2 linked regions of the Homo sapiens genome follow. The protein of the gene in region 2 purifies or fractionates together with the protein of the main gene of each other region. This does not show direct contact. Each region holds a gene or a part of one and is shown on either strand. Other genes may lie near its edges. The genes, in order: INPP5B and PHETA2.

Evidence for each region.
Region 1: the proteins of PHETA2 (region 2) and INPP5B purify together in Homo sapiens (affinity purification with mass spectrometry; 2 studies listed by BioGRID and IntAct, with this or other methods). This does not show direct contact.

The regions. Positions count from the first base shown.
Region 1 is NC_000001.11:37,943,798-37,951,426, forward strand, and holds the start of INPP5B (type II inositol 1,4,5-trisphosphate 5-phosphatase isoform 1 precursor), read right to left. Parts: upstream 3,257-7,629; 5' UTR 3,193-3,256; intron 3,073-3,192; exon of another isoform or gene 2,983-3,072; coding exon of another isoform or gene 2,977-2,982; intron 2,538-2,976; coding exon of another isoform or gene 2,512-2,537; coding exon 2,455-2,511; intron 2,054-2,454; coding exon 1,959-2,053; exon of another isoform or gene 1,855-1,958; intron 1,831-1,854; exon of another isoform or gene 1,482-1,830; intron 116-1,481; exon of another isoform or gene 97-115; coding exon 1-96. UniProt on the Homo sapiens protein: Hydrolyzes phosphatidylinositol 4,5-bisphosphate (PtIns(4,5)P2) and the signaling molecule phosphatidylinositol 1,4,5-trisphosphate (PtIns(1,4,5)P3), and thereby modulates cellular signaling events.
Region 2 is NC_000022.11:42,076,959-42,079,938, reverse strand, and holds the end of PHETA2 (sesquipedalian-2), read right to left. Parts: intron 2,660-2,980; 5' UTR 2,646-2,659; coding exon 1,866-2,645; 3' UTR 501-1,865; downstream 1-500. Other genes in the region: SMDT1 (essential MCU regulator, mitochondrial precursor), read right to left, coding at 1-170. UniProt on the Homo sapiens protein: Plays a role in endocytic trafficking. Required for receptor recycling from endosomes, both to the trans-Golgi network and the plasma membrane.

The sequences.
Region 1 (7,629 bases), on a different chromosome or scaffold from region 2:
TCTTCCAGCGTAAAATCCCGCGAGACTGGCACTATCTGGTCCAGAGAGACATCGTCCCCGGTAATGGCCATCCTCCGGTGCGTATAGAGGAAGAGACTAAGGGCAGGAAGCAGAGGTGAGGATGGGGGCCCGCTGGCTGTCCCTCAGCCCTATCTTGGAGGTCTCGGGGTGCTCACACTCGCTCGTTGGTCCCTAACACTGTGCTGGTGGTGCCCTGGCTAGGCACACTCCTCATGCCATCTCTGTCTGTGGTGCCCATCAGAGACTGCAGTTTTATGGATGAGGTCATCAAACCAGAACTTTTCTCATCTGCAGGAGCCCCTGATTGTTAGTAAAACACAAACACATGTTTGATCTAACCATGGTGCATTCTAGCACTGTGTGTGACAGGAACAGTGCAACCTTAGCTACCCACTTCTCTCCCTGAACCTGTTTCCCATCTGTAAAACTGGGGTGATGGATCAGAAAATGTCTAAGGCCCCCTCCCTCCCAGCTCCTAGACCCTGAGTCACTTACCAGCTATGAGACCTTTGACAACTATTACTCTCTCTCTGCTTCTGTGTGGTATGTGGGTGTTACTAGACAACATTTATGGAGCACTTTCTTTTTTTTATTTATTATATTTTTTAAATTATTTGAAATAGAGATAGGGGTCTCACTATATTGCCCAGGCTGGTCTTGAACTCAAGCAGTCCTCCCAGCTCAGACTCCCAAAGTGTTGGGATTACAGGCATGAGCCACTGCACCCAGCCTTATTGAGCACTTTCTACACACCCCATGGTGTTCGTTTTTTTTTTCTTGTTTTTTTTTTTATAGAGACAGGGTCTTGCTGTGTTGCCCAGGCTGCAATCGTAGTTCACTGTAATCTCAAACTCCTCGGCTCATGTGATCCTCCCGCCTCAGCCTCCTGAGTAGCTGAGACTACAGGCATGCACCACAACACCCAGCTAATTTTCTTATTTTTTGTAGAGATGGAGCCGGGGAGCGGGAGGTGGGGCGGGGTAGGGGGGGCGGTCTCGCTATGTTGCCCAAGCTGGTCTCGAACTCCTAGGCTCAAGCAATCTTCCTGCCTCAGCCTCCCAAAGTGTTGGAATTACAAGCATGAGCTACTGCACCTGGCCTAACTCACTTTACTCTTTAATATGGACAAATCGAGGAGTAAAACAACTTGCTCAAGATCATGTGGTTCCACCAGGTGCGGTGGCTCATGCCTAAAATTCCAACACTTTGGGAGGCTGAAGTGGGAGAATGACCTGAGGCCAGGAGTTCCAGCATGCAGCTATGAGTGCACTACTGCACTCCAGCCTGGGTGACAGAAAGAGACCCCGTCTCTAAAAAAAAGATCATGTGAGGCTGGGCACGCTGGCTCATGCCTGTAATCCTAGCACTTTGGGAGGCCAAGGCAGGTGGATAACTTGAGGTCAGGACTTCAAGACCAGCCTGGCCAACGTGGTGAAACCCTGTCTTTACTAAAAATACAGAAATGAGCCAGGCATGGTGGCGGGCACCTCTGTAATACCAGCTCCTCAAGAGGCTGAAGCACGAGAATTGCTTGGACCTGGGACGCAGAGGTTGCAGTGAGCCAAGATCACCCCACTGCACTCCAGCCTGGGCAAAGACCAAGACTCCTTCTCAAAACAAACAAACAATAGATCATGTGGCTTGTTAGTAACAAAGCCTGGGTTTGAACCCAGGCATTTGGACCACGAGGCTCAAGATCTGGACTAGTATGTTAAACTGTCTCTTCTCAAGAAACTTCCTCCTTAGATCTTGAGGATTATGAGTTAGTACGTGTGCAGGGTTTAAAATATAGTGTTCAAAAAATATTAACTATCATTGTGATAATTATTCTAGGAGACTCAGACCCTGCCCTGGAGGGACAGTTGAAGTTCAGCTGGAGGGTGCAGTGATGAACAACCCCATGGCCCAGACAGGTGGGGACCAAGCCCCTCACTCACGCGTGTTCCTGGCCGCCGTGCTCCAGGCGGTAGCGCACGAGTCCCAGGAGGCGGCTCTGCCGGCTGTCCCCCTCACACAGCACACCTTGCACCGCCTGCGGCTCAGAGTCAAGGGAAGACAACCCAGAGGCGAGGCCTCTCCCCACCCAGGCTGTCCCACCTTCCCTCTGTTCCCCTGCCCCCCCAGATTCACTGTGTGGCCTTGGGTGAGCACTCAAACCATGTGCTGAACTAACAGACAAACAGGCTCTCTAAGCCTTCCTTATCTATGAAATGAGGATAATAATCCCCAACTTCATAGGGAGTTAGGAGGATAACTGCGTATTTAAAGCATTTGGCTGAGAGTCCAGGACTCAGTAAGTACTTAGTAAATACTGATTTCCTTCTCCCCTGATGGTTCAGAGGGGCAGGAGAGGGGATAGACACCTCGACACCTTCCATTCCTCTTCCCAAGGCCAGGGCAGGCTCAGGGCCGCAGTTAGCACAGGAAGGATATGATGACGCAGTATTCCCCCTCAGCCAGCGTCTCCTGGATTGCCACAGACTGGTCCATGCTGGCCCCTGCTGAGCGCACACACCCTGTGGGAGGGGAGATAGGAGCCCCGCTTTGGTCAACAAGTTACGCATGGGGTGGTGGAGCTGCCTCAGAGGGGTTGGGGGCAGGAGGGAGGGGCCTTTGCAGAGGGAGATGGTACCGGGGAGGCCTGATCCTCCTCCTCCTCCTCTTTGTCCTCCCTAGAATAGGCCTTTCAGTTTTTAGGGATAGGGGTCCAGTCCCTTTGCCCCGCTGGGATCTACAGTTTGCTATACTGCCTTTGTCTGGGAGGGCATCCAGTTGCTCTTGAGTGTGGTCTATCCTTGTTGGAAGTGGGGTACGTGGATTGGAGAAGGGGACCTAGTCCCTTTGCTCCTAGGACATGGCTCTTCCTCTCTTTTGGGGACAGTTTTTGTTCTGCTAGCGCCTCTCTGGGAGGTGTCAGTGGTGTGTCCATGTGGGGTTCAGGGAACATCCCCTTACTGTCATTCAGGAGGGTCCCATTCCTCTTTCCTTGGAGACAGGAAGTGTCCCATTGCTGCTTGCCCTTCACCCCCGCCCCAGCAGGCCCATTGCATCAGCTGCAGGCCGGGGGTTGGGGGGTGTCCCAGCCCTCAGCTTGCCCACTCCCTCCTGCCCAGCCCTGCCCTGGCTTTCCTGCTCTGCTCCCACCCACAGCTCCCTGACATTGTCACCTACCTCCTGAGCTGTCACCACAGGGCGCACGGGACTCCGCTGCCCCAGGTTCCGGGACAGTGACTACATTTCCCAACAGCCCCTGCGCCACATGGTGGTCAGTCAGCCTGCAAGTCCCAGCATGCCCGAGTCAATCGTGGGGTGGGGAGTCTCTCCATCCGTGTTAACCCCTTAGGCCCTGGGGTACACTGGGCTTCCTATACCAGAAAGGTTTTCTAATGATTGCCCTCACTCCCATCCCCAGCCCTCTAGGTCATGGGGCCAGAGCTTCCCACCCAGAAGGAAGATGGTCACATTTTATCTTAGGGGAAGAATATAATGCATTTTTATTTTCTCCTTAGTTCCATCCTCAGCTCTTCTCACTCCAGGGTAGACAACCCGGACCTCTACTGAAACTCTTCCCCTAAAATAACTACCTTCTCCTGGTTTAATGGAGGGAGAACCAGACTATGAAGAACCATTATGTCCATTTTCCAGGTGGAGAAACTGAGCCTTGGATAGGTTAAGCAGTTTGACATTAAGTCCTGCAGCTAGCAGGTGGCAACACTGGGACTCCACTGAAAGTCTGACTGCAACTCCTGGGCCATTTATACCGCTACACACTGCCCTATTTCCTCCCTTAGCCCCACCCAGCCCTCCTGCCACACAGGGCTGTTTGAGGCTACTGGGTGTGAACGCACTTTATAAAGGGTATGACACTGTTCCTGTCCGGCAACGTCCTTCCCCTGATCCGCCTGGCTTTGTGACCTTGGCCAAGACCTTTCTTCCCTTGGGACTCAATTTCCCCATCTAAGATAAGGAGGTTACCCAAGATGGACAAAAAGAGCCAGCACAGGGACTGGGCACAGTGGCTCATGTCTGTAATCCCGGCACTTTGGAAGGCCAAGGAGGGAGGATCGCTTGAGGCCAGGAGTTTGAGACCCCATCTCTAAAAAAAAATTTTTTTAAATTTAGCCGGGTATGGTGGTGCATGCCTGTAGTCCCAGCTACTTGGGAGGCTGAGGTGGGAGGATTGCTTGAGCCCAGGAGTTCAAGGCTGCAGTGAGCTGTGATTGCTCACCCAGCTCAGATAAGGAATGCTAGGATCATTCTCACTTGGCCTATTGGCTGTTTAATTAAGCTGTAAGCTCCCGTTGGACAGGACTATGCCTTTTCATCAACATACCAGCAGTTTCTGGCACACAGTTATCTATGGAGTTAGTGAATTACTTTCTGAACTATTTTAATAAATACACCTTCTCTCAAGCTTTGGCCCAAACTGAAGGAATGGGCCTTCAGTGCTGGGGAGGGGGTGACTGTTGTGACTTGTGAACAGTTTCCCTTCCTCTTTCCCCAAGTGAAGTGGCCATCCTAATGACCAGTTCAACTTTGCATATGTAAACCCCTTCCAGAAACAGTCGTTGCCTTCTTCTCAATCCATTTCTTTTCCTGGAAACATCCACAGCACAAATGGAGCTCAAGTTTATTTGAATTCAGTGTCTAAGTCATGTGGACGATGAGGGGAAAGGGGATTGACTCAGACCCTTAGGATCAAGGGGTGGGGTCACTGCAGGGAAGCAGAGGAACCCCAATTCCAGCCCTGCTCTAGTGTCAAAGCCTGGCGAGGAGGGTCTGGGCAAAGTAGATGGGGCTGTGTGCTTTTTATGATGAAGAAACTGTCCCTGCAGGATTTGGGGGTCCTCCCACTGGGTGGGGGTCAGGCAGGAGGTTTTCTGTTTTTCCAGACAAACCCTATCCTCTCCCTGAGATTAGGGCTGAGGGCCTGCCCCCTTGGGGGGTTCCATGGTCAGGCCTAGGCCCTAGAAGGGGAGAAGTGAGGAGCCTTAAGCCCAGAGCTGTGGGCTTGATAAAGGCCTTTTACTAAAGATGCAACTACAGGAATCAGAGCTGGAGGGGGACCTGAAGGCTTGTAGATCCTACAGGGTCTTCTTGACTGCTGCTCCCAGATTCTGCTGGGCCCAGCTAGGGGAGCAGGAATAGGAGCAGAGCAGAGTGGAGGAGAAGTAGCATAGCCACAGCCAGGGCCCAGTGCAGGGGGTTTCTGGTGGCCCCAGGAGCTGCCTGGTTGAAGTGAAGTTTCCCATCCAGCTGAAGGCAGCTGCCTGAGGTTGAGGCTTGACAGCACTCCTGGTAGCAGGGTGGGGCCACAGCCCCATGACACTGGGAGGTCCCTGCTTCACAGGCCTGGCTGCAGCCTGCAATGTAACCTGAGCTGGAGCATTTCAGCTGCAAGAAGAGGTGGGACCATTCATCTTCCCCTTGCCCCTCTTCCCCACTCAAAGGCAGAAAGTGTTAAGTGGGTCATGGGTTGAGCTCAACCTCCTTGGACCCCTAGCTTCCTGCCCACAAGATCAGTGAGTTCCTAGTGAACATACAGGGTGGTCAGAAAAAAAGGGGCACATCGTGGAGGTATGGAAAATTCCAGTTGCTGCCTTTGGTGTTGGCATCATGCAGAGCTGAGGGGGTCAAGCTTGCTAGACCCCACGGCTGCTCCCAGCAGGTCTAGCTCCAGCCAGATTCTACTGCTGAGCTACCCACTCCAGGTAGAAGGAGAAAGCCATGCAGCTCTGAGGGAGGAGAGCTCCCTAATTCTTGGAGCATCGCAGGGCTCACCTCACAGAAGTCCAAGCCCTCAGGGCACATGGCCACAGCTTTCGGCCCTTTGAAACAGTCACCACCTTGGCAGGAGAAAGTAGCACAGATTTTCTTCTGGAAGAGAAAGCAGGAGGAGGTTTGGGAGCTCTGTGCAGACTGAACAGGTGGTAAATGCTGGACAGAGGCAAGGCTGGAGCCCTATCATGCCTGTGTCACTGGCCCCATCCACCACACGCTGTCCATTCCTGCCTCCACTTCCTAGAGGAGGCAGGTGAGAATGAGACACATTTCCCTGGAGGGCTGGCAAGGTGGTGGTCACCAGGGGTGGAATGGAATGTAGCTTGTCCTCTGGGATCGTCGGGTGGGCTAGGCCTAGGAGCAGAGCAGGACTGCCTGGGGAAGTGCTGTGACACCTCTGTAAAGCCCTGACCCCCTGCCTTGCCCCCAGGGAGAGCATGATGTGTGTGGGCAGCTCACAACCTGACATCTCCCCCACCACGGCCTAGATGAGCACAGGTGCTTGCCCCAGGCCTCTTTGTAGCTTGTTGGGGAGGGGAGTGCTGGATGGGCTGGACTGGGGAATGGTGGGGATGTTAGGAGTGGGGAATCTGAGAGGGGGTGGGGCACCAAAGGTAGAAAGCTCAGACTTGGGGAGCTAATGAGGAAGGCAGAGTTTTTTTTTTTGTTTTTTTTTTTTGTGGTGAGGTGGAGTCTCTCTCTGTCGCCCAGGCTGGAGTGCAGTGGTGAGATCTTGGCTCAGTGCAAGCTCCGCCTCCCAGGTTCATGCCATTCTCCTGCCTCAGCCTACAGAGTAGCTGGGACTACAAGCGCCCAGCACCACCATGCCCGGCTAATTTTTTGTATTTTTAGTAGAGATGGGGTTTCACCATGTTAGCCAGGATGGTCTCGATCTCCTGACCTCATGATCCACCTGCCTTGGCCTGTCTCGATCTCCTGACCTCATGATCCACCCGCCTTGGCCTCCCAAAGTGCTGGGATTACAGGCATGAGCCACCATGCCTGGCCTAGGAAGACATTAAAGGTAAGGGTCAGGGCCGGGCGCCGTGACTCATGCCTGTTATCCCAGCACTTTGGGAGGCCGAGGCGGGTGGATCACGAGGTCAGGAGATCGAGACCATCCTGGCTAACATGGTGAAACCCCGTCTCTACTAAAAAAATACAAAAAATAAGCCAGGCATGGCGGCGGGCGCCTGTAGTCCCAGCTACTCGGGAGGCTGAGGCAGGAGAATTGGGTGAGCCCGGGAGGCGGAGCTTGCAGTGAGCCGAGATCGCGCCACTGCATAAGCCTGGGTGACAGAGCAAGACTCTGTCTCAAAAAAACAAAAGAAAAAAAGGTAGGGGTCAGTCAGAAAAGGCCTAGAGGTTAGCATATTCATAGAGGTTGGGGGGGCTGGTGAAAATTGAGCTGAGATTTGAGGGCCTCTCAAAGGGCTGGGTTCAAAGTTGAGGGTTAGTGTGCAGAAGGGCTCTGAGCTTGTGGATGAGTAGGAATGGGAGTCAGAGGTGGGGGCTCTGAGGAATGGGGCTGGGAGCTGCAGGTTGGCGGGGCAGGGCTGAGTATTAAGGGTGGGGCTGTCTCACCCCAGGCTGACTCATTGAGCACGAAACAGAGTGGCCCTCCATTGCAGCACTGCAGCCTGCAGGGGTCTGGGCTGGGGGCTGAGCTATTGGACAGCAGACAAGGGCTAGGACCGGTTTCATTTCCCCCTTCACAGCTGAAGCTGCACCAGGCCATGTAGTGGGAAGCGTTGAGTTGAATCAGCTGGGTAGAGAGAATGCAGGCATGTCCAGGAGGATGGGGGCACAGCCAGGCCTGGGCCATAG
Region 2 (2,980 bases):
AAAATGGCGCCGCTGCGGGTAACGATGACTGACCTCGACGGTACCAGGCTCCGGCCTGAGCCGCTCCATGCGGCGGAGACATCGCCATCTTTCCTCAAGCTAGGCCCGCTCCGGAGAGCCCCGGACCTGACGGGTGCCAATACTAGCCAGCGAGCCGCTCCGGACGCCATGCCCCCAGCTCCGCCCCTCACCCGGGCACCCGCACCCCACCGCCCAGCCCTCGTGCCGCCCTCGGGAAGAAAGCCGCCCGAAGCCTCGCGAGAGTTTGAGGAGTACACGAGAAGCCCAGCCCTCCCACTCGCGCAGTGCCGGCGGCTCCTGGGGCGGCGGGAGGGAGGTGTTTGTCACTGGCCGGCATGGTGGCGTCACGAGAGTGGCGGCGCAGCCCCGGCTCCCTCAGTCCGCGTCCTGCTGGGCGTGGCCGCGGTCTTGGGTCCGCCCGGCCGTCAGAACAGGCCTCAGCGGCCGGTTGTGGAAATAAACCCAGGGAGCGGAAGGAGTAATAACGAAAAAGCTTTACTAGTGTTTTAACCGTGTACAAAACACTGTAGCAATAAGAGAAAGGCCCGTGCTATCTGTGTTTAAACAAAATGCAGTGGCTGCGGGGCTTCCAGGCAGGGCTGGGGAACAGGCCGGGCGCCCGCCTTGGGCGCATCTCCGCCTCTTAGGGGTAAGAGGCTCAGAGCCTACCCCTTAGGCCTAGTTGGATGCGGGTCGGTCCTGCCCAAGGCCCCAGTGAGGGGAGCCGAGGCTAGGAAGGGGCAAGTTTTATGTGTTTGGGAGGGGGTGTCTCTTCCCGGCCTCTGCGTCTTCCCCCTGGAGCGTCAGTATGGTCAGGCTCTGGTGACCCAGCCGCTTTGCCTCCCGACTTTGGGAAGAGTAGCAAGGAGAGGTCCTGGCAAGTACACCCTGGGTGACAAACGGCTATGAGAGTTCCCAGGTGATTTCTCGAGCAGCTTCAGTTTACCGGAGCCCAGCCAGGAGAGAGAATTTTAGCACAGGAAACGCAATCCCGTGTCCAAGCTCCTAGAATACCCAGGACTGAGAACCAAAGCAACAGACTTTTCCCAGGGAGCCACACTGCCTCCCCACCTCTTCTTTAACCCCTCACTTGGCAGCTCCAGGAGTTGGCTGCTGAAGACAGAGTACAGGAGGGCATTTCGTTGACGTAAAAAAGCTACAAGCCCCTTCCGGGGCAAGGTCCAGCACCATCTGTTAACAGGGCAGCCAGGGAGAAAGGATGGGACCCCAGCACTCTGAGCAGAATAAATCTCTCTTCACTGGCCGAAGACCCTCTGCCTCAAAGGGCCCTACCCAGACTGCTGAGTGAGGATCCCATCCCCAATCTTCCCACCCCTCTCAGGAAGAGCTGGGTCCCAGAAACTCCTATGACACAATAAATCCACTTTCTCTGACAGTGTCAGAGCTTCAAGCCGATACTGCAGCCTACCTCGGATTTAAGTGCACAGGAGACTCCCCAGGTTGGAAATTATGGCTCTAGAGCCCGGTGTGTAGGCCAAAGGTATGGCAAGCCTGTGACAGTCTCGGGTGACATTCCCCACTTCCTTCATTTCATTAACATCCCCTGGGAGGGGGCAGTCAGGCCAGTGCAGTCAGGAGATTGGGGTCTTGCTCTGTGGCTGCTAAGTCTCCTTCCTTCTCTGGACCTCAGGAAATAAAGAGGATGGAAGGAATGGTCCCGCAGTCCCTTCCAGACACACGGGTGGATCTCGAACCTGGAGAATGCCTAAATAGCAGGAAGGAGAGAACCCATGTCCCCTCCCAAAACGCAACCTTGGAAATGGGTAAACATTTAACTCCTGAAAAAGAACTGGCCCTGGTTTCCTGACTCAAAGGGCCCAGACTTAGGGCCTATCCTGTTCCTCACATTTTGAGTGGCTCCCCTGGGCCCTCTTCTGCCAACACTGCCGCAGCTCCACGATCTCCTGGCCATACCAGTCATGCAGGGTAGAGAAGCAGGAGGTCTCAGGGGACACAGGGCTCTGCCCCTTGCCTAGGAGGAGGCTGGCAGGGCCCTGCAGCTCCCACTCAGCCAACCCCCACCCTGCAGACCTGCTGCCCGCTTCTTCAACCAAGCCCACAGGGCTGCTGTCCTTGGAGAGGCAGTGGCCATTCTCCAGGCCCGCAGCTCGGTGGTTAGGAGCCTGGGGCTTACAGCGGCTGGCAACAGACTTCCAGGATGAGCGGCGTTGCAAAGCCAGGCTCTGGCGTGCGTCCTGCAACTGGCTCTCCAACTCGCGTACCACCAGGCGCATGTAGCCAAAGCTTGCCCGGGACAGCACCTTCACCCAGGCCTCCTGGGCCGCCGGCCCTTCTGCGGCCAGCAGGTGTGGGCGCACTCCAGGGGCATCAAAGCAGATGGCAAAGGCAAACTCCTCGGGCACGGGAGCCTCGGCCAGTTCCACTGTGCAGCCTTCCAGCACCACCAGGCTCAGTGGGGCCCGGCCCTCGCGACTCTCAAAGGAGAATAGCAGGTTGCCCTTGAGGACAAACCAGCATCTTCGGCCAGTGCCACTGGGGGTCGGTGGGGTCCCTGGGCCCCCCCAGGTGCGCAGGAAGCCCATGTGGTCCGCTGGGGAGTCGCTGAGTGCATAGTGGGCTACACTCCTCTCGTTCAGCTTCATGGCTCCCACGGGAACTGTGAGGCAAGAGAGATGGCAGCAGATCAGAGAGGGAGGTGGTTCCGTGCCCTCCTGGGGAACAGCACCGGCTCCAGAGGCAACCTGGACCCCAGCCCTGGGACTCCTACTCGCTTGCTGTGTCCCTAAGGTCCCTAAAGTCTCCTGAGAAGTGGGCTCGTCTTTCCTTCCTTTTCTCTCAAAGGGATGTCGTGAGGATCATGCAAAAAAAACTGGACACTGGCGGACTTCGAGAAAAGAATAACGAGATTGCATCAGACAGGAGGCATGGCAGGACCTGGGCACGGCTTTCTAAAATCCAAAGAAACAGGCCCCAGCTG